Regions from separate parts of the Homo sapiens genome. Here all the other regions are linked to region 1. Evidence: fine-mapped expression QTL. A gene starts in region 1. Each other region holds a variant in brackets. All regions are shown on one strand. Distances are between the middles of the regions.

Region 1 (8,182 bases):
GCACATCTGGCAGGTAGACCCCACCACTACTGCAATTTCAGACTACCTAATTTTAACTCGTTTTTAAATACTAATCTTGCCATAATTGATCATCTGACTTTTATTCCTGTTCTGAGATATTTTTAGAAAAAGTATTGAATGAGAAAGCAGCAGCAAGATTAAAAACATGAATAAAAAGCATATCTTTTCATGTAAATCAAGCTTGTCCAACTCATGGCTCGTGGGCCGCATGCAACCCAGGAGCACTTTGAATGAAGCCTTACACAAATTCATAAACTTTCTTAAAACATTATGAGTTTTTTTTTGCATTTTTTTTTTTTAGCTCATCACCTATCTTAGTGTTAGTGTATTTTATGTGTGGCTTGAGATAATTCTTCTTCTGATGTGGCCCAGGGAAGCCAAAAGATTGGACACCCCTGATGTAAACGAAAGTGAACTGTAAAACAGTAACACTAGCCTCTAAGAAAGCCAGACTTCCTTAAAAAGGCAAGTCATTTATCCAGTGTAGGAGTTTGGGGAATTATTTTCTAAGGAAAGAAATGGTGCTTTCCAGTCCCCCGTGAATGAAATTTATTTTTACAAATTTACCATCTCACTAGTTTCATTACAACATTGGTCCATAATAATGGCATAATTTACCTAGAAAATATGTTTAGTTCCTAGGAGATAGAAATCCTAGTTGAATTCTAGGATGTCTTTAAGTTATATATAACTTTCATTTTTTATTCTAATAGCTCAAAATGCATTGCATCTACTCTAATAATAAACAGATATTATGAATGCTGATTTTAGCATTTTAAGACCTACAGCTGGAAAAGACCATCTGACCGTCAATTTAAGAAAGCCACAAATGACATGACATACTAATTATCTGTATTAATGACCCAGTTATTAACACCACTCCTGTAAACATTTCCTTCTAGTGAAAAAGGAAATAGTATATATCCGCATATTGCAATAATCATTCAAGGTAGTTTGAAAAAATACTGGAATTGGTAAAGTTAAAGGCATTTTATAGAAATAAAAAGTTTTACTGGTTGCTTATCAGAATTAATTATGATTATTCATAAATGTTACTTCAATATGTTTAAAAATACACAAACCAACCCAAATCTCACACATGTCAGCCCTACTAATGTCAATTCAATTCTAATATAGTTATAAGAAAATATGGTTATGTCAAAGGAAACATAGCAGGTTCACAAAGTACTGGGCAGGCAGGTAACCCAAATAAGTGAAACAGGCTTCAAGGGCAAGGAGGACTGTGCCTAACAGCTGCTACTCAGCCCGACCCAACCTTTGCCTCTAGGAAATACTGGTAAAGAACAACAATAATAAACTTCTGCTAATGGAACAGTCTGCAGGCTGGATTTGGCACACAGGCTACCATGTATATGTACCATGTACCTTTGCCGAAATGCTTAGTGGCTACGAACTAGTCTGAGTCAGAAAAGCTAGACTGAAAAAATACCTCTCTTCTGATTCTAACAAACTTCATGAACCTATCCAGTCTCCGTTTCCTCATCTATATGTCACTGATTTTTATTTTCTTTTTTTTTTTTTTTAAGAGAAAGAGTCTCAATGTTGCCCAGGCCAACTCCTGGGTTCAAGCAATCCTCCTACCTTATCCTCTTGAGTAGCTAGGACTACAGGCGCGCCCCACCGCACCCAGCTTGAGTTTTTTAAGTGAAGTTAGGTAATGCACGTAATTTTTTAAAATGCTATCATTAGATGCTGAGGGGTACAGATTAAAAAGGAAACAGAAAAAGAACAACAACAATTTAAGCATCTGTTCCATCTGGCTATGGGCTTTACTTTTCCTCAAACTGACAACACCTTGTCCCACCTTCTTTCCCACCCACAGGCTATTTTCACCTGTAATGTCTCCTCTTCCTCAGGTTTCTTCAAGGTGTACTTAATATTTCATTTATACCTTTCCTTTCTACTTCAGGCCTCCTTTGAAAGTACTTTCAGGAATGGCACTGAAACTAGGGCCTATTTTACTGCTGAACTCTAGGACAAACTCATGAAATCTTGTTCCCTTTGAATGTAGTAGTTTTTCCCCCCTAAATCTTTGAACGCTGTGCACTTCGTGAATTCCTTTTGCCTACCTAAAGGACCTATCAGCATGTTCACTGAACAGTGCTTTCATCTATCCCTCTTCCCGGGACCCTCGCTTAACATCTGTTCAAGGTGCCAATCAAATTAACGAAAATGTCAAAACGTATTAACCAAAAATTCATTGCTAAGCAAATAGATTTGAAACAACTTCAGAATATCAATTCCAAGGCTCCCCTTCTTTAAAAGGAAATGTGAGTTAAGAACAATCTTAGTTTTTTCTTACATTCATTCTAGTACAGACATCCAAAAAACAAAACAGCTTTCCTCAGAAAGGTGTGTTTGACTTTCTCAAAAGGAAGTTATCATATTGATTTCAGTTCATGTAGAAAAATAACATTCTCCATTTCTTTTTTTTTCTTTTTTGGAGACAGGATCTCACTCTGCTGTCCAGGCTGGAGTGCAGTGGCCCAAACACGGCTCACTGCAGCCTCAACCACTTGGGGTCAAGCGATCCTCCTGCCTCAGCCTCATTTGTAGGGACAAAGTCCCGCCACGTTGCCCAGGCTGGTCTAGAACTCCTGGGCCCAAGCGATCCTTCCACCTCAGCCTCCCAAAGTGCTGAGATTACAGGCGTGAGCCACCGCGCCCAGCCCTCCATTTATTTTCTTGATAACAATCTGGAATCTTGATTCCATGAAACCTCTGAGAATCAAAAGAAATGTTATGGTGCCTCTCTCCAGGTAAATGCACAGAACCTCAAATTTTTGTAAGCAATTCTAGGGGATTCAGAATACTCCAGGATCTTCCGTGGAATATCTATCCACCCCAGGTTAAGAATTCCACTAATGAATATGAGGTTTCTTTCTATTATTAAGTGTCATGTATCTTTTAAAAAAGATAGTCTTTCTTAATGAGACCTTCAGCTTTGAGATTTAACTAGGGAAGCAGCTTCCCTTTGCAACTAAAACTACTATCTCACAGCCATCCTGACAGCTGACAGAAAATTGAGAATTTCTTACCTCTGAGAAATTAACAGCCAAGGGAATGATTCCGGCCACGTAACATCCCACCAACATAGCCAGAGACAGCAGGCTAATGGAGATGAAATCATCCATTCTGCCCTCCTTTATTCACCCACAACCACTAGACAACAAATTTCCAGTGGCTTTAAATGGTGCTTAGGTTCTTTAAACAGGTGTGGTGGTTCCAAGAGAGTGGGCTTTCCAGTTCTTTAGGCCTTCCCACCAGCAGATGTGTTCACGAGGCACCTTCCTCTTGAACGTACCCGGCAACAGACCCTTTTTGCTGATATTAGCACCAGAGAAAGCTTACAGCAATCTAAGGTCCCAGGCTCTGGGTTCTCAGATGCCAGTCATTAGATTCTCGTGGGTTAACAGAGATGGGAAAAGTCAATGGGGAAAATGTGCGAATGATCGATTTCTTCGATTGTCGGATTGAGGGTGGCACAATGTCTTAGGCGGCGGCGGGTAAGTGACTCAAGCGAACCTGTTCGTTCCCTAGGCGCCCCTGTCTCCAAGAGGCGGCCCCGAAGGTGATCCGCCCCCCAGAGCAGGAAACCAGCCCACCAGTCCCAGCAAACTCTCCTCCGAGCCTGGGATGAGGAAAGGAGTCCTGCAGGTCTCTAACGATGGGTCCTAGGGGTTCAGCAGCAAAGTTGACACAAAGCTGTCTCTGCCCTATACCCGGTGCTGCCCATGGTACTGCACTCGACCGGGCCTTGACCCGGAGTCGCCGATACTACAGCTGCCATGGCCGCCAAGTGGCATCTCTTCATTCCATCCACTTCCGGATTGTCTAACCACCCCCTCCTTTACAAAGGCACTTCCGGGTTACAACCGACCTCCGGCCCAGGATACTTACGTTGCCGCCATTTTTGAGTAGGGCTAATGAAAGATGTCTGATGTCACTGTCTATACCGGTGATCACTTGAGCCGTATGTTTAATAACGAAAGTACGGAAGACAGCGTCTTGAAAAAAAATAATTCTTCCTAAAGCTTGGAAACTTTCCCTTACCTTTTTGCCTTTATCGAAGATGGCTGAAACAGAGTCAGTAGCTGCTCTAGCTGCCGGAAGTGACTGTGCCTCTATGATCCAAAAGGCTCTTTTGCGTTGCACTTTCGACGACTTCCGGCGGCTCCTCTCGCGAGGATTGGCTGTTAGCGGCGTTGTAGTTAAGCTCGTGTAACGGCGGCGGTGTCGGCAGCTGCTGTAGCGAAGAGAGTTTGGCGCGATGGTGAGAAAGGCCTCCGCGGCTACCCGAGTCCGAGTCCCCGGCCTCCAGAGCGACCCCAGCCCCATACGTTTTCCCCTCCCCACGAGCCCCATGCAGCGCCGCGTGATGCTCCCCGCCACTCTAGTCGGTGGATTGACCCTTCTTCCCGCCGCAGGGACGCCAGGCCTGACTCTAGGCCTCGGAGCCCCGGTCCGCCCTGCGGTTGCGCGCCCGCCTGCTCGCTCGGGTCCGGCGTGCCTTGGGCCTGAGGATGAACTCTCTCCCGATTGTTACTCGGTAGAGGGAGACGTGGGGGAGGTGTTTTGTTTTTTGAGATAGAGAGTCTCACTCTATCGCCCAGGCTGGAGTGCAGTGGCGGGATCTCAGACCCCTGCAACCTCTGCCTCCTGGGTTGAAGCAATTCTCCTGTCTCAGCCTCCCTAGTAGCTGGGATTACAGGCGCCCGCCACCTCGCTCGGCTAATTTTTTTATTTTAGCAGAGACGGCGTTTCACCATGTTGGCCAGGCTGGTCTCGAACTCCTGACCTCAAGCAATCCACCCGCCTCGGCATCCCAAAGTGCTGGGATTACAGGCGTGAGCCACCGGGCCCTGCCGGATATGGTATTTTTCCCTCCAAATGCTCTAGCCTGCTGTAGGAACAATGGGCCAGGGTTGTCTAACTATTCTCGAAGCTGACAGATCCAGCTATACCCAGCATGTGGGCCAGGAGAGGACGTATTTGCTTTGCAGTGTTTTTTCAGCTTTCGTTTTCCTGTGCTCTGCCTTTTTTTTTTTTTTCCTGTTTTTGAGACCTCTAGGTATTGCGTGTGGCGCGTCCCTCAGCCCTCGATCCTGTACTTATCTGTATTTATATCCTCTTGGGGCTGGAGGCTGAAAAGTAGGCTCAGCTCAGAGACCAGCTCTATTAGAACCCAACCGGGATGATCAGTAAGCTCCAATTCGAAGAAAGTGACCAAAACTGGCTTGAGAGGTGGTATAATCTGTAAAGAATTTGAGCAGGAAAGCATTGCCATTTAAAAATGATAACCACTTGACCACAGTTTTTAAAATGTATCATGTTATGTTCTTAGTGATTTTTAATCCTTGTCTTTGGGCAGTAAGTACTGAAAATAGTAAACTTTGCCCGGTGTTCATTTTAAGACTAGATATAAAAAGCAACATGCTGTATAGCTTTTTCCATTCTTACCCTTTCAAATTAGTCCTTTAATTTGCATTAGAATTGGAATACAATTATTATAGTAGCAGTTGAGATAGCTAGTGTATAGGGCAACCTCTGTTGCAAGAATGCACGTGGTTTCTACAAAATTATTTTTTCTTAAATGACTCGTTGAAACTTTTTGAGTAGCTAGCTTACAAAGACTTCTGTATAACAAATAATCTAATATGATGCTTTCTGTGGCTTTTAAATCGATTTAACAAAGGCTTTGACTGCTCAGGTTATTACAGGTGAGAGTTAATCCTTCGTCTCTTGTCACCAAGTTCCGTTTTTATGTCAAACCCTCTGAAACTTTTAGTCAAAGTGGTTTAGTTCTTGATGGGGAGAGAAGGGTATGATAACCCTTGGTTTTGCATGTCATGTTAAATGTACTATTTTTCCATTGTTTATTCAGAAAGTCTGGGCTTCAGCTATTTCTGTTCCAATTTGATGGTTAAAAATTCTGATCATTTTGTCCAGGCGCGGTGGCTCACGCCTGTAATCCCAGCACTTTGGGAGGCCGAGGCAGGCAGATCACCTGAGGTCGGGAGTTCAAGACCAGTCTGACCAACATGGAGAAACCCCATCTCTACTAAAAAGACAAAATTAGCCGAGCATGGTGGTGCATGCCTGTAATCCCAGCTACTTGGGAGGCTGAAGCAGAAGATTCGCTTGAACCCGGAAAGCAGAGGTTGCGGTGAGCTGAGATCGCGCCTTTGCGCTCCAGCCTGGGCAACAGGAACAAAACTGTCTCCAAAAAAAAATTATGTTATTCCAAAACAGTTTAGGGTTCCTGTTAGGAAATTTTTGTTTTCTGGTTTTTGGCTGAAAAATACTAGTACAGCAGAAGAGAAGGAAAAAGGTGAATAGTTTGATTTGGGACTGGATTTACAGTGGAGTTGCATCATACTTGCATTTAATTAACCTTACACATGTAGCAGAAAATTGGATGGGTCATATTTTCAACAGACCAGTGAATTCTCAGCTGGATGAGATTTTTTGCTCCCCAAGGGACATTTGTAACAAAGAATCAGTCAACCCAAAAGGTAATAGAGCCCACGTTGAGAAAACACTGAGATTGATTTGTTAGTGACTGATCACTAACAAAAACATGTTTCCCAGTGAGCACGAAGTGGAAGACAAGTCTGTCTGCTATGGGCATTATTTCACATTTCTCATAGTGTGATGACCTAACTTTCTGTGTGATTCTAATATGTGATTTTGGTATGAGAAAGCCCAGTAAGGCAAGTCATCTACTAGGTGAATAGTTTAATGGATTTTTAAGGGTAATTCTTATGATATGTTTATATTGCTAATTTATCTACTGCTTTAATGTTAAGTCTAACCCCTGGATAAAATGTGACTTTGCTCTTACGCTGAGGTTGGAAAAAAAGCTTAAGTTGAAACCATGCTTGTGATTATTATACTATTTCCCCTTTTGTTTCCTTTCATCAGCCCATCTGAGTTTTTATTAGTGACTTAAGAGCATTAAAGATGGAAAGTGACCACTGGAGACAGAAAACCTAAGCAGGTTTATAATTTAGTTGGGAAGAAAAGATAGAAAAGGAAAAGGAGGGCAAGGTAGCTTATACTGATTACTTGTAGGCAGTAAGTACGGTAGGACTGGGAGACTTAGGGAGACCGTACAGCAGAGTTGTGAATCCAGCTAGATACTATACTTAGACTAAGACATCAATATTTTTGTGGGAAAAGTATCCTAATGACTTTTTTTTTTCTTTTAAGAGATAGGGCCTCACTCTCCGATGCAATGGTGTGATCATGGCACACTGCAGTCTCAGCCTCCTGGGCTCAAGGAATCCTCCTGCCTTAGACTTCCAAAGTGCTGGGACTACAGGCATGCACCCGGCAAATTTTATTTTTTTGTAGAGACAGGGTCTTGCTATGTTGCCCAGGTTGGTCTCAAGCTTCTGGCCTCAAGTGATTTTCCCCCTCTCAGCCTCCCAGAGGATGAGGATTATAGGCATGGGATGCCATGCCTGGCCTCTCTAATTACATTTTAATAACTAGCAATCATTATTGCATTACAAATGGGGATTTTTTTTTATCATACTATGAATTTCTCAAATAGAAACTTATATTGAAATCATGTTTTCCCCTGCAGTCTCACACCATTTTGCTGGTACAGCCTACCAAGAGGCCAGAAGGCAGAACTTATGCTGACTACGAATCTGTGAATGAATGCATGGAAGGTGAGTTTAACACTAATCAAGGGGTAGAAAAATGTCTCATTTAGGAACTGGGTTTTTCCCCTCCAAATTTTTTTTTTTTAATAGTCCATCCACCCCAGGCCCTGCCTTTATCACTTCCAACCCTCCAAATTTATTGAATTGCTAATTTTAGGAGGGAAAGCAGATATTTAGGATGGACCATAATTATTGAACATTTTATTTATTTGTTTGTTTATTTATGTATTATTTGAGACAGAGTCTCGCTCTATCACCCAGACTGGAGTGCAGTAATGCGATCTCGGCTTACGCAACCTCCGCCCCCCAGGTTCAAGTGATTCTCTTGTGCCTCAGCCTCCCAAGTAGCTGGGACTACAGGCATGGGCCACCACACCCAGATAATTTTTTGTGTATTTAGTAGAGATGGGGTTTCACCATGTTGGCCAGGCTGGTCTCGAGCTCCTGACCTCAAGTAATCCGCCTTG
Region 2 (8,182 bases), 27 kb after region 1:
GTGAGCTATGATTGCACTCCAGCATGGGTAACAGAGTGAGAACTTGTCTCACAATAAAATAAAGATCTCTATTTGTAAACCCTAGAGAAATCACTTTAAAAAAAAAGAATCCAAAAGAAGATAGGATATCAGGATAATGTGGAAACCTGCGGTTGGAGGAGTTGCCATGGTAATGTTAACTCCCACCTTCATCTACAGGCTTTTGTTGTGGAGGCTTTTGTTTTACTGTGTGCCAGGACCCCAGAACAAAGAATAGGTGGGAAAATAGATAACAAACAGCAATATGGTAAATTTAGACCCAGTCATTAATAATTTCATTAAATGTAAATGGTCTAAACATTTCAATGAAAAGACTCGGATTGTCAGACTGGATCATGAAGCAAGACACCACTATATGTGGTCTATAAGAAATCCACTTTACATGTTAAGACACAGATACAATAAAAGTGAAAAGGATGCGGAAAGTATGTCATGCAAACACTAAGCATTAGAAGCAGGAGTGGCCATACTTAATATAAGGCAAGGAGACTTCATAACAAGGAATATTACCAGGGATGAAGGGGGATGCTTTGTAATGATAAAAGTGTAGCTTCATCAAGAGACATAACAATCCTAAAAATACGTGCACCTGCTGTCGTTTGCATGTGTCTCCCAAAGTTTATGTGTTGGAAACTTAATCCCAAATTCAACAGTGTTGGAAGTAAGGCCTAATAAGAGTTGATTGGGTCATGAGGGTATGAGCCTTATGAATAAATTAATGTCATTTCCGCAGGAGTGAGTTAGTTATCATGAGTGGTCTTGTCATAAAAGTGAGTTCAGTCCCCCTGCTCTCTTTCTTGCTCTCTTTCTTGCTTTCTGCCTTCCACCATGGGATGACATGAAGGCCCTTGCAAGGTGCCAGTGCCATGCTCTTGGACTTCCAGGCTCCAGAACTGTGAGCCAAATAAGTTCCTATTGTTTATAAATTACCCAGTAAGTATTTTGTTACAGCAACAGAAAATAGACTAACACATCACTCAGTGACAGAACTTCAAAATACATGAATTAAAAACCTCGGGATATTCCAATGTGCAATATACCACTACTGTTCAAAATGTTGCACACCTGAGTATCTTGAGCAGATTTTTATTTGGTTGGTCTGTGGTGGACTCACAGTCTACAATTTTAACAAACTTCCAGGTAACCACACTTTGACTAGCAAGACATCCTACACATACTGCTTTTCATGAGGTAGCATAGGAAAATGCCTGGTATATAGTAGGTGAACAGTAAATAGTGATAGAATCTGACTAAACAGAACAAGGCACATAAATGGCAACAAAGATGAACAAGAATGATCTTAGGCAGTAGGGATAGAGAAGAGCATAAACTTTAGTACATGAAGCAGTATAACATTTTTATGGGAGGGAGTGCTGGGGGAGTGTTAAGTGGACAAGGAATCATAAGTAAGTAACAAGCATAACACTGAAAGACTACTCACACTCTAGGCTAGACATTAAGGCAAGTGAATGATGGGCTAGGAGATAGGAGGGGCTGAGAGGCTGAAATCATGAGGGCACTTGAAAGATGGAGAAGTTGAAAGAAGCTAGATGATGGTCTGAGGGGAATTTCAGTGATACCTTAGAGGAGGGCCAGGCACAGTGGCTCACGCCTGTAATCCCAGCACATTGGGAGGCTGAGGCGGGCAGATCACTTGAGCTCAGGAATTTGAGACCAGCCTGGGCAACGTGGCAAAACCTCATCTCTACAAAAAATGCAAAAATTAGCTGGGTGTGGTGGCATATACCTGTAGTCCCAGCTATGCAGGAGGCTGAGGTGGGAGGATTGCTTAAGCCCAGGAGGTCACAGCTGCAGTGAGCCAAGCCGAGATTGTGCCACTGCACTCCAGCCTGGGCAACAGATTGAGACCCTGTGTCAAAAAAGAAAAAGGAAAGAGAGAAAGAGAGAGAGAAAGAAAAGAACAAAGAGAAAGAAAAAGAAGAGAAAGAAAAAAGAAAAGAAAAAGAGAAAGAAGACTTAGAGGGAGATAATCTCTTAGTGATTTGCTTTCCTGTCTACTCCACTACATAGTTTGTCTTGTAAGCCTAAGAAAGATGTTTTGCCTTTGAAGATAATAGTAACTCCTTCAGCTACATTTAGAGATCCTGTGTCAACATATCTAGCATACCCTTTCTTTTTTGTAATTATACACTTAAGTGGATGTTCAGTTTGAGACATACTGTGAAAAGGTTGGTTTAAAAGCCTTTTCTGTGCCAGAGGTAATTTTCTTTATGCTTTTCAAGAGACTATGAAGAGGCTAATGAGAACTGATGACATCGCTTAACTGAGACAGGCCCTGCATTCTTGTCAATAGATGTTTGAAGTTAAAGTGTGTGGGCTGTAATTTAAGAGAAATGGGATAGATCATGGTTTCTTTCTTGGAAGCCCAGGGTTGGAGGAGTTGTCATGGTAATACTAACTCCCACCTTTACCTACAAGCATTTGTTGTGGAGTACCTACTCTGTTACAGGACCCTTGGGCTTGGCCAACTATATTGCCTCTCTAGCCTTGGAGAAAAAGAGTATAGTTGAGTCTTTTAGTGTCTGTTCCATGGTGAGTAGTTTGAAGAGTATCCCACAGTTCTGGGTCCTTGCCCTGCAATGCCCCTGGCCATTCTAGAGATCACTTTGTCCTTGACACTGTCAGTGAGCTCAGAGACCTGTTAGAAGTATGGTCACCAACTTCCACCTACAATGCAACTCCAGGAAGGATTACCACAATGCTCATCCCAATTATTTTGCAAATCCCAATGGGAGGTTGCAGGTATAATGACAGAGGGCAGGAAACCTCATGTTTCTTGCAGAGTGTTAGGAAAAGATTTGAAGGTGCAGGTACTGAAAGGCTGTTGAGGACAAATGCTTATTAGAATGAAGTTGATTAGAGATCAAAGTCCTGCTTGATACCTCAACGTATCCTTGATACCCTTGCTTCTCTTAAGCCAGGCCCTCTGAATCTTTTCAGGTACTTGGATTGAGAAATTACTTCTTTCCTTCTTAGAAAAGGCTGAAGATCCCAGGCATGGTGGCATGCGCCTGTAATCCCAGCTACTCGGGAGGCTGAGGCAGAAGAATCTCTTGAACCTGGGAGGTGGAGGTTGCAGTGAGCCGAGATCGCATCACTGCACTCCAGCCTGGGCAACAGAGCAAGACTCCATTTCAAAAAAAAAAAAAAAAAAAAAAGGCTAATGATCACTACTAAGACAATTATGTATTTGAGCCTTGTGACCTATGTGTGAATGGTGAGCATCTCTGAATACTACCCAGCATTCCTGCAACAGACCAGTGTAGATATTGGGATTCCACAGTTTGTATAAGATTCTATGTCAACAGACCCCGTATCAGTGAGTCAGTGTTTGCAGCCAACACGGAGTATGTTGCCCCAAGAGCCTGTGGATGGATCACTCAGGCTTCCCAACAAGGACAACCGCCTCACCTCCCCCTGCCCATCACCAGCTTTGATAGGCACTCCAACCCCCAGCCACCTTCTGCCTAGACAAGCTCCTCTTCCTACTTGGGCTCTAACTCCTCACTGCAGGCCACTCCTGCACAGGGATGCCCTACTCATCCTGCTCATCCATAAAGGTAACTCCACATTTATGTGACC[G/A]GCTGTCCTAGTAACAGTTATGCTGTTTCCACCTCATTTTCACTGTTTAACTTAATCCTCGGGTAAGTGTAGAGCCAGGTGAATGATAACTTATTATTATTTATTATTTATTTTTTTATTTTTTTTGAGACAGTCTTGCTCTGTCGCCCAGGCTGGAGTGCAGTGGCACGATCTCGGCTCACTGCAACCTCCACCTCCCGGCTTCAAGCAATTCTTCTGCCTCAGCCTCCCAAGTAGCTGGGATTACAAGCTCACGCCACCACGCCCGGTTAATTTTTGTATTTTTAGTAGAGATGGGGTTTCACCATATTGGCCAGGCTGGTCTCCAACTCCTGACCTCATGATCCACCCACCTCAGCCTCCCAAAGTTCTGGGATTACAGGCGTGAGCCACCACGCCTGGCCAATGATAACTATTATTACAAAACAAACTCTTAAGAGTTTTGCACACTTTCTATATGTACGTTATACTTAATCAAATGTATTCCCCAGCAATATTTAATATTGCTGTTAGGCCGGGTGTGGTGGCTAACGCCTGTAATCCCAGCACTTTGGGAGGCCAAGGCGGGTGGATCACGAGGTCAGGAGACCGAGACCATCCTGGCTGACATGGTGAAACCCTGTCTCTACTAAAAAAAAATACAAAAATAAGCTGGGCGTGGTGGTGCGTGCCTGTAATCCCAGCTACTCGGGAAGCTGAGGCAGGAGAATCGCTTGAACCAGGGAGTGGGAGGTTGCAGTGAGCTGAGATCGCACCACTGCACTTCCAGCCTGGCGACAGAGTGAGACTCCATCTCAAAAAAAAATAAAAAAATTACTATTAATACAATACTACCAGAAAGAAGTCTAAAAACATTCATGTTACCGTGAAGTTACCCCTGTATCTTAGTGGAGGCCAAGGACCCCAGGGCAGTCCAGTCACCAGCTGCTCAGGCAAGGAATCTTGTTCAACTTCCGGCACTTCTTGATTCTCTAATAGGCTATCCTTGTAGCACTTTGATTCTCTAATAGGCTGTCCTTGGCCCTTTGGTAAGGGCCAAAAGATCTGATAAAAACATAAGGACTGTTTATTTGGTTTTTAAAATTGTATCAAGCTATTTCAAGAAATATTTTTAAATTGCTAAAGCTGCTCACAAAGCAGTAATGACCCTAGCATAGGTGGGATCTTGCCTTTTGCATTGATTTGCACTTGGCGCACTGTTCCTGTTGGAGATGGAGGGCAAAGGAGAAGATAGCACCAGGAGGCTCCTTTGCCCATCAGTATAAGATTCCAGCAGTATTAAGGAATTATTGTGATTTTTAGATTTGATAATGCCATTGTGGTTATTTTTTCAAATTCTCTTTTAGAGTGTATACTGAAATATTTACAGATAAAATGACATATATGAGATGTGCTTCAAATAATCCAGTGGAAGGGTGTAGATGAAACAAGATTAGCCATAAATTGATAACCTGGGTGGTGGGTTTCACCTCTTCTTTTTCATATGCTTGAAACTTTCCATAATGAAAAGTTAAAAAAAAATAAAAGATTCGATCACAAAGTTATATCCTATCTTGGCTACTGCATAGCGGTAGTGCTAAAGCCAGTAGGAACACTTCTAAGACTGACAATGCATCCATGATCCTTACTCCTCCATAGGGCTTTACCATTCACAGACCACATTCACTGCTCCACTCCACCTGGATACGCTGCCCCACCCTCTCCCCTCAGCCTGAGCAGAAGAGGGAATGATGCATTATCAAAGCAGGGCATATTTGGGCCACAAAAGAAGCCTTTGTTGAGGACGACTTGTCTGGTTGCTTGGCAGGCGGAGCTTGCAAGGAAGCCCGAGGTAGCTCTGCTATGTCAGGCTGGTGTTCTGTAAGCCTGGGAGCAGTGGGGAATGTTTGGGGCCACTGAAGCTGCATTTCTGACACATGCTAATGAGCTCGCCCAGGGATGTAAACAGAGTCAGCACTTCAAACTAAATTCTGGTGACATTTAACAACCCTTGCTTAACCACCTCCCTAGACTGCTTCTGACTGGACACAAGAATGCCAATAGAAAAGGGGGCATTTCCCACCTCTGACAGCTTTCCAATGCCAGTTTATAAAAAGCTGCCAAATGTGCCCAGCCTCACTCAGTGTGGGCATCCCCAAAGGAGAAGAGCAAATGTGTTTTCTGAATTCCCAATTTCAGGCCTCTCCACTCATCTCTACAATCTTCCCCAGTCTGGTTGGGAAGTAAGCTGTCCTCAGGGGGACCTTAGAGAGCTCCTTCAGGGAGTCGGAAGACTCATTAAGCTGACAGTTGACAGCTGATTTTGTCATGCTAACTTTAGACTGTTCCTAATCAGGAGCCACTAGTCCCTGAGGTGGTTGTGTTCATTGCCTACTTGTAAAAGTAGGTCTTTCTCTAGTTTTGAGTGCACGTGGTTGCGTCACTCTGTAGGTAACGTGGACAGAGCTGGGGAGGCCAACAACATGGATGTTCCTATTGAAGAAAAGTTAACCACTCCGTTCCCTAAGATCAGCCGCTTGCCTTGAAGACACATGCCAGTGGTTCACAGTGGAGCTCACCACCCCTCCTCATGGACCCCATCCAAAGCAGCTCTGTCTTGAATGGTGTTGCTAGCCAGCCAACCTTTCACGGCTGAGGTCTGGGTACAAGCTTTCATTTCTTTCTTCCTCACTTTCCACATCCAGTTGGTCAGCAAGTCTTGCTTTTATCTTTGTCTCTCTGCCTCTATTCATTTATTTAATTATTCATTTCCACAAATATTTACTTAGCACTTACTATGTGCCAGACACAATGTTAACATCTGGGGATATAATGGAATAAGACCGTCTGCCATGATCCCTCCTTCCATTCCTATGTGTCCTCCTGTTTGGGCCCTAATCAGAACCCCAGTGCCTTCATCAGGCCCTCATCAGTTATCATCTGCAATAGTTTCCTAATTGATCTTCCTACCTCAGGGTGACTCTCGATCAGTTAGTCAGTCATCATTCTCTCGTTACAAATGACAGAAACCCATCCTGACTTAGCTCAGGCAACAAGAGTGAGGGGTATAGTTTATTGAGTTGTGTAAACAAATTACAGGAATGGCCAGAGCACAGGTGAGTCTTAGGATCAAGTGGAACCAGAAGCTGATGGGCAACAGGAATGCCTGCTATTTCTGGTCCCTGCTTCCCTTGAAGTGTTAGTGTCATTCCCATCACAGGCCAGCTCTTTCCCACAGGGATGCCCATTGTCTTCGAGTTTTACCACTTTAGAAAGATTCCTTCTTTCTAGTCGAGTTAAAAGATCCCAAGAAATGTTCTGACTGGACTGGCCCAGCTTGGGTTACCTGCCCTGAGGACATGGTGGGATCTGTGTGGTGGGCAGCCTCTGAGGTGGCCCCCAGTGATTCCTGCCTCCTGGTAGTCAAGCCCTCGTGTAAACCCTCCTCTTAGGGGAAGGCTGAACTTATGAATGACTCTCCTAAAATAGCATACAGCAGAAGTAATGAGATCTCACTACCAGTATGAAGTTACAGAAGGACTGTGGCTTCCATCTTAGGTGTGCTCTCTCAGTCTCTCTGAGACTGTTGGTTCCAAGGGTAGCCAGCTGCCATGTTGTGAGACAGCCCTATGGAGACAGCCCATGGAAGTGAGCTTGGAAGCAGATTCTCTAGCCCTGCTTGAGCCTTGAGATGACTGCAGCCCTGGCTTGACACACTGATTGCAACCTCATGAGAGTCTCTGAGCCAGAACCCTCAGCTAAGCCACTCCTGGATTCCTGACCCATGGAAACTGTGAGATAATAAATGTTAATTGTTTCCAGCCACTAAATTGTGGGGTAATTTTTTACACGGCAATAGGTAGCTAATAGAGTCTATAATAAAATGGAAGTTTCTATTCAACCCACAAGGGAAAGAGCTTTTCCCAGAAAAAGGAGGCAGGAGGTTTTGGCTGATAAAGAATAGACATCCATCACTACCCTCTAATAGTCTGTCCTCTTCTGTGCTATGGAAGAGGACGTTTTTCATAATGAAAATCTGATTATATCACTTTCTTGCCATTCTTTCTCTTTTCTTTTTCTTCTTTTTTTCTTTATTTAGAGATTGGATCCCGTTCTGTTGCCCAGGATGGAGTGCAGTGGCACAATCATGTCACTGTAGCCTTGAACTCCTGGGCTCAAGCGATCCTCGCACCTCAGCCTCCCAAGTAGCTAGGACTAAAGCTGTGCAGCACCATGCCTGGCTAATATTTAATTTTTTATTTGGTAGAAACAGGGTCTCCCTATGTTGCCCAAATTGGTCTGAAGCTCCTGGCCTCAAGCAGTTCCCCCCCACCCTGCCCCATCTCCACTTCCCAAAGCGCTAGGATTATAAGTGTGAGCTGCCATGCCTGGCCTTCCTGTATGGAATTCTTTTTCTTTTTTCTTTTTCTTTTTTTTTTTTTTTGCCTTGCACAGCCCCTGCTTGGAATTCTTGAAGCTCTCTATCACTCTTAGTTTGTTCATGCTGTTACAACGAAGTACCATAGACTGGGTGGCTTATAAACAACAGAAATGTATTGCT
Region 3 (8,182 bases), 77 kb before region 1:
CAGGTCCACACCACCATGCCTGGCTCATATTCACCTTTCTCACTAGGACTGTGCAATACCATTTTCTGGTGACTCTTCCCACCAACAGCTGACTCCCTAAATAATCCAGCTCCCCACCATCATGCGTGCTCTTTTCAAGGCCCCAAGCTGATCCTGTAAGTCTCTTGTGTAAAGCCCTCTGCTGGGTCCCATTCCCTTGACCCCAGCTCCTACCTCCTGACTTTGGCTCTAACACTGATACGGTTTGGCTGTGTCCCCACCCAAATATTATATTGAATTCCCATGTGTTGTGGGAGAGTACTAGTGGGAGGTAGTTGAATCATGGAGGAAGGTCTTTCCAGTGCTGTTCTCATGATAGTGAATAAGTCTCACCAGATCTGATGGTTTTAAAAAGGGGAGTTTCCCTGCACGAGCTCTCTTCTCTCATCTGTCACCACGTGAGACATGCCTTTCACCTTCTACCATGATTGTGAGGTCTCCCCAGCCACATGGAACTGTAAGTCCAATAAACCTCTTTCTTTTGTAAATTGCCCAGTCTCAGGTATGTCTTTATCAGCGACGTAAAACCAGGCTAATACAAACACCCTTCACAGTCTAGTCCCTGGCCCTGTCCGCACTCAAAAGTTTGTACCAGTAGAGTAGGGTGCTGCTGAAAAGTTACCCAAAAATGTGGAAGTGACTTTGGAACTGGGTAACAGACAGAGGTTGGAACGGTTTGGAGGGCTCAGAAGAAGACAGGAAAATGTGGGAAAGTTTGGAAGTTCCTAGAAATTTGTTGAATGGCTTTGGCAAAAATGCTGATAGTGATATGAACAATAAGGTCCAGGCTGAGGTGGTCTCAGATGGAGATGAGGAACTTGTTGGGAACTGGAGCAAAGGTGACTCTTGTTATATTTTAATAAAGAAACTGGTAGCATTTTGCCCCTGCCCTAGAGATTTGTGGAACTTTGAACTTGAGAGAGAAGATTTAGGGTATCTGGTGGAAGAAATCTCTAAGTAGCAAAGCATTCAAGAGGTGACTTGGGTGCTGTTAAAGACATTCAGTTCTGTAAAGGAAGCAGAACATGAAAGTTCAGAAAATTTGCAGCCTGATAATGTGATAGAAAAGAAAATCCAAGCCAGCTATGGAGATTTGCATAAGTAATGAGGAGCCAAATGTTAATCCCCAAGACAATGGGGAAAATGTCTCCAGGGCATGTCAGAGGTCTTCACAGCAGCCCCTCCCATCACAAGCCCAGAGGCCTAGGAGGAAAAAGTGGTTTCATGGGCCGGTCCCAGGGTCTCCTGTGTGCAGCCTAGGGACTTGGTGCCCTGCATCCCAGCCACTCCAGCCAGGGCTGAAAGGGGACAACGTAGAGCTTGGGCCATGGCTTCAGAGGGCACAAGCCTCAGGCCTTGGCAACTTCCACATGGTGTTGAGCCTGCAAGTGCAGAGAAGTCAAGAATTGAGGTTTGGGAGCCTCTGCCTACATTTCAGATGTATGGAAACACCTGGATGCCCAGGCAGAAGTTTGCTGCAGGGGCAGGGTTCTCATGGAGAATTTCTGCTAGGGCAGTGCAGAAGGGAAATGTGGGGCAGGAACCCCCACATAGAGTCCCTACTGGGACATTGCCTAGTGGAGCTGTGAGAAGAGGGTCAGACCCCAGAATGGTAGATCCACTGACAGCTTGCACCATGCACCAGGAAAAGCTTCAGATACTCAACACCAGCCAGTGAAGGCAGCCAGGAGGGGGGCTGTACCCTGCAGAGCCACAGGGGCGGAGCTGCCTAAGACTATGGGAACCTACCTCTTGCATCAGTGTGACCTGGATGCGAGACATGGAGTCAAAGGAGATCGTTTTGGAGCTCTAAGATTTGACTGCCCTGCTGGATTTCAGATTTGCCTGGGGCCTGTAGCCACTTTGTTTTGGCCAATTTCTCCCATTTGGAATGGCTGTATTTACCCAATGCTTGTACCCCCATAGTATCTAGGAAATAACTAACCTGCTTTTGATTTTACAGGCTCATAAGTGGAAGGGACTTGCCTTGTCTCAGATGAGATTTTGGACTGTGGACTTCTGAGTTAATGCGGAAATGAGTTAAGACCTGGGGGACTGTTGGGAAGGCATGTTTGGTTTTGAAATGTGAGTACATGAGATTTGGGAGGGGCCAGGGGCAGAATGATATGGTTTGGCTGTGTCTCCACCCAAATCTCATCTTGAATTCCCATGTGTTGCAGGAGCAAGCCAGTGGGAGGTAGTTGAATCATGGGGGTGGGTCTTTCCTGTGCTGTTCTCGTGATAGTGAATAAGTCTCATCAGATCTGATGATTTAAAAAGGGCCAGCCTGACCAATGTGGTGAAACCCCATCTCTACTAAAAATCCAAAAATTAGCCAGGCTGTGGTGGCACATGCCTGTAATCCTAGCTACTTAGGAGGCTGAGGCGGGAGAATTGCTTGAACCTGGGAGGCAGAGGTTGCAGTGAGCTGAGACTGTGCCACTGCACTCCAGCCTGGGTGACACCAGAGGGAGACATTGTCTCTAAATAAATAAATAAATAAATAAATAAATAAAATAAAGGGGAGTTTCCCCGCCCAAGCCCTCTTCTCTTGTCTGCTGCCATATGAGACATGCCTTTCACCTTCCGCCATGATTGTGAGGCTTCCCCAGCCGCATGGAACTGTAAGTCCAATAAACCTCTTTCTTTTGTAAATTGCCCAGTCTCAGGTATGGCTTTATCAGCAGCGTGAAAACAGACTAATACAAATACCCTTCACAGTCTAGTCCCTGGCCCCTGTCCGCGCTCACTCACAGTCATTCCCCTGGCCCTCTGCTCCAGCCACGCTGGTTCTGCTAGCCTGGGAAGGTCCCATGCTCTTCACATCTTCTCACTTGCTGTCTCCTCAGTCTACAATGCTTCTCTTATTCCCAAAATCCCTCTTCAACATTCAGCCCAAAGACTTCTTTAGTGATGTCTTTTAGTTTTCTTTTAAAACATTATTATTATTATTTTAAGAGATAGGGTTGCTCAGGCTAGAGTGCAGTGATGCCATCATAGTTCACTGAGCCTGGAACTCCTGAGCTCAAGCAATCCTCTCTCCTCGGCCTCCCAAGTAGCTGGGATTACAGGTACATGCCAAAACGTCTAACTAATAAACTTTTTTTTTTTTTTGAAATAGGGCCTAGGGATCTTGCTATGTTGGCCATGCTAGCGTTGAACTACTGGGCTCGAAAGATCCTCCTGTTGCTGGGATTACAGGCATGATCCATTGCACCCAGCAGTGATGCCATTTTTTTTTTTTTTTTTTTTTGAGACAGAGTCTCACTCTGTCACCCAGGCTGGAATGCAGTGCCTCGATCTCGGCTCACTGCAACTTCCACCTCCTGGGTTCAGGGGATTCTCATGCCTCAGCCTCTGGAATAGTTGGGATTACAGGCACACACCACCACATGCAGCTAATTTTTGTATTTTTAGTAGAGACAGGATTTTGCCATGTTGGCCAGGCTGGTCTCGAACTCCTGACCTCAAGTGATCCACCTGCCTCGGCTCCCCAAAACGCTGGGATTATAGGCGTGAGCCATTCCACCCGGCAGTGATGCCTTTTCTGATGCCACTTCCTCCTCCCCTTGGTTGAATTATATTCCTATTTTGATTGTATTTCCTAAGGCCACGATGGGCCTTGGGCTCCTCTACCTGCGCAGGACTGGGTTTCCCCCAGGGCAACCCAGGAGAGAGTTGAGGTGGGGCACAAGGTACCACATGAAGGTGCAAAGCCAGTAGGCCAAAGGACTATGGGGGAGGGAGAGCCACAAGGGTGTGTGGGCACAGAAGACTAGTTGACCCATCTCTGGGTGCGCTGGGGAGTAGGGTCCCCCGGGGCCCCTGTGGGAAGCCTCACTTGCGGGGAAGCACAGCCTGAAGCCACATAAGCAGGCCCC[C/T]GCTTCAAAGTCTCTCTCCACTTGAGCTCCCTGGCACTAGACTAGATGGGCTGTGTTCTCATCAGCAGGGCCAGCCTCTTGCTAGGCTTCTACCCCACCCCACCCTCTCACTGCCCAGTAATCACTCACACCCAATGTTGCCAATGCAGAAGCGTTTTTGGGAGTGGCTGGAAAACCATGCCACCCTGTCAGCCTGCCAGCTACTCTACCGCACTAACATTAGCTCTTGGTACCCACCGGCATCGCTGTGGGCAGCACACTCAGCAGACACCCTGAAGGTATTCAGTGCTCCCTCTTGTGGGTGATGCATGAATTAGAATATACATTAATTTGGCTTCTAAGAGCAAGTATATTTTGGGAATGGTAAGAGGCAGATATGTTGAGTCTGGCCAATAAGCCCATAGCCATTTATTGCTATGATCTCACACACTCTCCCAGAACATCTAAGGGAAAGCCAAGATGCTGGCCCCTCATCTAGAACAGAATTAGCAGTTCACTGGACTAGGAGCCAAAGGCTGGTCACCAGCGTTAGCTCCATCTTTACTCAATGAGAAGACTTTGGTCAAGTTACTTTAAAACACTCTTGTCTTCATATATCAAAAGGGAGCTAACCAGGAACAGTGGCTCATACCTATAATCCCAGAGCGTTGGGAGGCTGAGGTGGGAGGATCAACTGAGCCCAGGAACTCGAGGTCACATTGAGCTGTGATTACACCACCACACTCCAGCCTGGATGACAGAACGAGATCTCCAATCTCTTTTTAAAAAAAGAAGGGGGTGACCAGGACATCTAACTCTCTGCATCATACTTTCTTGGAATTTTTTTTCCAGGTTCAATAGCATGTTCTTTTCTGGCTTTGTTACTAAACTGAATTTGCATCCGCACACCCGGTGGAGCAAAGCCAAACACGGCCATGGGGATTGCAGTCAGAGAAAGTGAGGCATTTATTGCAGGGTGCCAAGGAAGGAGAATCTGGCAGTTTATACTTCAGACCAGAACTCCCAAACAGCTTACAGGCAAGACTTTCTAAAGGCAGAGGTTACAAGCAAAGTCATAAGCCATAAATTAATACAATGGAGGCTATACGTTGGTTTGACCTAAAAAGGTGGACATCTCAAGGCGGGTGGGGCACAGGTCACAGGTGAATTCACAAAGATTTTCTGATTTGCATTTGGTAAAGGAGGCAAAACTTTGTCTAAAAATTCGGAGTTAGCAGAAAAGAATGTTAGCTCTGGCCCATGGTCGCGAACCGGTGGTCAGAGTTCAGCCCTCATTTCCCCCTATCTGAGGTCTATGTGCCAGCAGATCATTTGGTGGGGGTCTGGGTTTCTGGAAAGCAACTCAGGAAAATATGGTAAGATATTATCTTTAGTTTCTAAAGGGAACCAAACTTTCTGAGACTCTAACTTCCTTGGTTATTGTTTTAGGCTGCTTTTGCCTTCTTGCTTATGAAATTGCTCGCCCACTTCTCAGGGCTAGCTAGGTGCCTGGAATTTCCCTTGAAGGAACTCAGATTTTCCTTTATTTCCTTGATGAGTGGGTGGGGAGGGTGCCTGGCAGGCTCCTAAGAGGAGTCCCCGCTCCTCTCAGTTTGTCAAGTACTGAGCAGGGCGAAGGCAGGGACAGATGAAAATACAATATAGGTTCTACTGCCATTCCCACCCTCTGCCCCTAGCCCAGCAAACACCCAATTCAGATGGGGGCTGGAGGGCTGGAAGGAAACAAGAGTTCAGGAGTGGAAGCTTTGGTGAGACAGTAGTTGAAGTATCTGAAGATGGTTATCAAATTCTGCCCTCAAGAGCATTCCAGACATAAGCAAGCAATCCAGGTCCTTCTAGCTTCCTCGAAGACCCCAATCTCCCCCTCGATCCCCTTCTCCACTGGGCTCCCTCCTCTGATGGCTCCTGAATTTGTCGGGATTCCTCAATTCTTGTGCAACCAGAGTGGGACACAAACTTTTACTCACATTCCTGTCCAAAAATTACAAAATTGGGCAGTGGCTAACATGGTAACAAAAATCAGTGGCTGAGCCAGTAATAGGATCCGGGTTTTCTGATTCCTAAATTAGTCATACAGCACCTTGCTGTGGCTGGTCAGCACTGAGTTAGTAACCTGAACCCAGTTAATTTCCCACCTGTACACTCAGTTCCATGCCCTTTCTGATACTGCTAACTCCCAAGCAGCCCTCACCAAGTGAGGCAGAGGTGGAGCTACACACACGCAGGGTCAGCAGCTGGTCCTGCCAGGGATCAGGGCTGCAGCTGGGGCGGGGAGAGGGAGGGTTGGTGGGAGGGTGGGGTAGGGACACATTCTGAGAAACATGTCCTTAGGCAATTTTGTCCTTGTTTGGACACTGTAGAGCAGTGGTCCCCAACTTTTTTGGCACCAGGAACCAGTTTCATGCAAGACAATTTTTTCATGCGCTGGAGTTTGGGGGGAGATGGTTTCAGGATGATTTAAGTGCAATACATTTATGGTGCACTTTATTTCTATTATTACATTGTAATATATAATGAAATAATTATACAACTCACCATAATGTAGAATCAGTGGGAGCCCTGAACTTGTTTTCCTGCAACTAAACGGTCCCATCTGGGGATGATGGGAGACGGTGATGGATCATCAGGCATTAGATTCTCATAAGGAGCATGCAACCTAGATCCCTGTGTGTGCAGTTCACAGTAGGGTTCATGCTCCTATGAGAATCGAATGCTGCCGCTGATCTGACTGGAGGCAGAACTCAGGTGGTAATGCTTCTTCACCTGCCGCTCACCTCCTGCTGTGTGGCCCGGTTCCTAATAGGCCAAGGACCAGTACTGGTCTGTGGCCCGGGGTTGGGGACCCCTGCCATAGAGTGCACTTACACAAACCTAGATGGCATAGCCTACCACACACCTAGGCTGTATGGTACAGCCTATTGCTCCTAGGCTACAAACCTGTGCAGCACATTACTGTACTGAACACTGTAGCCAGTTGCAATGCAATGGTAAGTATTTGTGTGTCTAACCACAGAAAAAGGTGGAGTAAAAATACAGTATTATAATCTTAGAGGACCATGGTTATAAATGTGGTCCATCATTGACCGAAACATTGCTCTGTGTTGCATGGCTGCTTTATAAAGCACATGACACGGTGATTAACGTTACCGAAAAAGAAATAGAGCAGCATACAGAACATGGGGGTGGGGACAGGTTACAGTTTTAACTCACGCGGTCCCGGTAAGCCTAATGGAAGGAGACATTGCATCCAGAGTTGAAGGAGGGGGAAGAGCATTCCAGACACAAGGACAAAGACTCAAGGTTGCTTACTTCTTACATTATAAACAGTATACGGGAGGATGCAGCTCTAGCTTAGAAGAATTAAAAACAGACATACATACATGTGTAGGCAGGTGAGTGTTTGATTCCCTGGGTTGCTGCTTGAAGGGCTGTGGTGTTGGGTGTGCCGCCTGTGTGTGATTCTCTCTCTGGTTGTGGGTGAGTGACCGAGTGGGCATGTGACCATCGCTGTGTGTGGTGATTGTTGTGACGGTGTGTGGTGTTTGGTTCTGACTCAGCACGGGTCGTTGAGTGTGTGGCTGGGACCATTGAGAAGTAGATACACACTTGTGTGTGACTGTGTAAAAACGTGTGAAACATTTTCTCACCATTTCCGTGAAGCAGCCGTTTCACCAGAAGGTTTGGAAGGAACCTTAAGCTCTGGAAGCCTAAGAGTTTATCTGGTAATTAATTTTAAACATTATATCTATGGTAAAAATAAATGTGGATTATGAAGGAGAAGACAAAGTCAGCAAAAGTGAGATGTCAAGGAGCTTCCTGTGTATAGGTTGACATCTCTCGGCCAAATACTAGACTACCATGGGTGGTGGTTCATTCTCTTCTGCTGTTAGGCACCTTTGGCATGGGAAAGTGTGGGGAGCCCTGGACTTGAGACATCCTGAGGCAGCATGATTCTGAATGACTGGGACTCCGAGGTCCTGGATGCTGGCCAGCCCCTGCGATGCCCAGTCCTGAATGAGAAAACCATCCCTATTCAAGGTAGTACAGTTTGTCCTTGAACCAGGTCTAGACTCCAGAGCTACTCTCTCTTGGTTTGATCCAGTTTCTCTCAGACCTTGTGACCTCTACAGTGTAGTTAAGAGTGTGGACTCAGGAGCCAGAATGCCTGAGCTCCAGCTTCAGAGATGTGCCTTGGTTTCCACATTTGAAAGTGGGGATGAGCCAGGCGTGGTGGCTCATGTCTGTAATCCCAGCTCTTTGGG

Alleles and levels. Positions count from the first base shown, and alleles are read on the strand shown. Sizes are in standard deviations (SD) of each study's normalised expression. Not every link is listed here.
For the expression in monocytes after R848 of the gene that starts at base 3,854 in region 1, allele C in region 3 goes with a lower level than allele T (large effect, 0.80 SD a copy in Quach 2016).

Evidence for each region.
Region 2: its variant is fine-mapped to the expression of SLC39A9 in whole blood (INTERVAL, PIP above 0.99).
Region 3: its variant is fine-mapped to the expression of SLC39A9 in monocytes after R848 (Quach 2016, PIP 0.95).

The regions. Positions count from the first base shown.
Region 1 is chr14:69,394,364-69,402,545 of GRCh38, reverse strand. SLC39A9 (solute carrier family 39 member 9) reads right to left here and starts at 3,854. Exons shown (of 7, transcript NM_018375.5): 1 at 3,081-3,854. The coding sequence starts at 3,176. ERH (ERH mRNA splicing and mitosis factor) reads left to right here and starts at 4,247. Exons shown (of 4, transcript NM_004450.3): 1 at 4,247-4,315; 2 at 7,634-7,721. The coding sequence starts at 4,313. RefSeq lists enhancers at 3,562-3,901, 2,830-4,029, 4,231-4,738, 4,739-5,247 and a silencer at 3,998-4,238.
Region 2 is chr14:69,367,528-69,375,709 of GRCh38, reverse strand. It overlaps a transcript of GALNT16 not described here. Among named protein-coding and RNA genes, the nearest start is that of ERH, 27 kb to the left of the region's middle. The variant G/A (reference allele first, on the strand shown) is at 3,643.
Region 3 is chr14:69,471,368-69,479,549 of GRCh38, reverse strand. It overlaps a transcript of PLEKHD1 not described here. Among named protein-coding and RNA genes, the nearest start is that of PLEKHD1, 9.3 kb to the left of the region's middle. The variant C/T (reference allele first, on the strand shown) is at 3,921.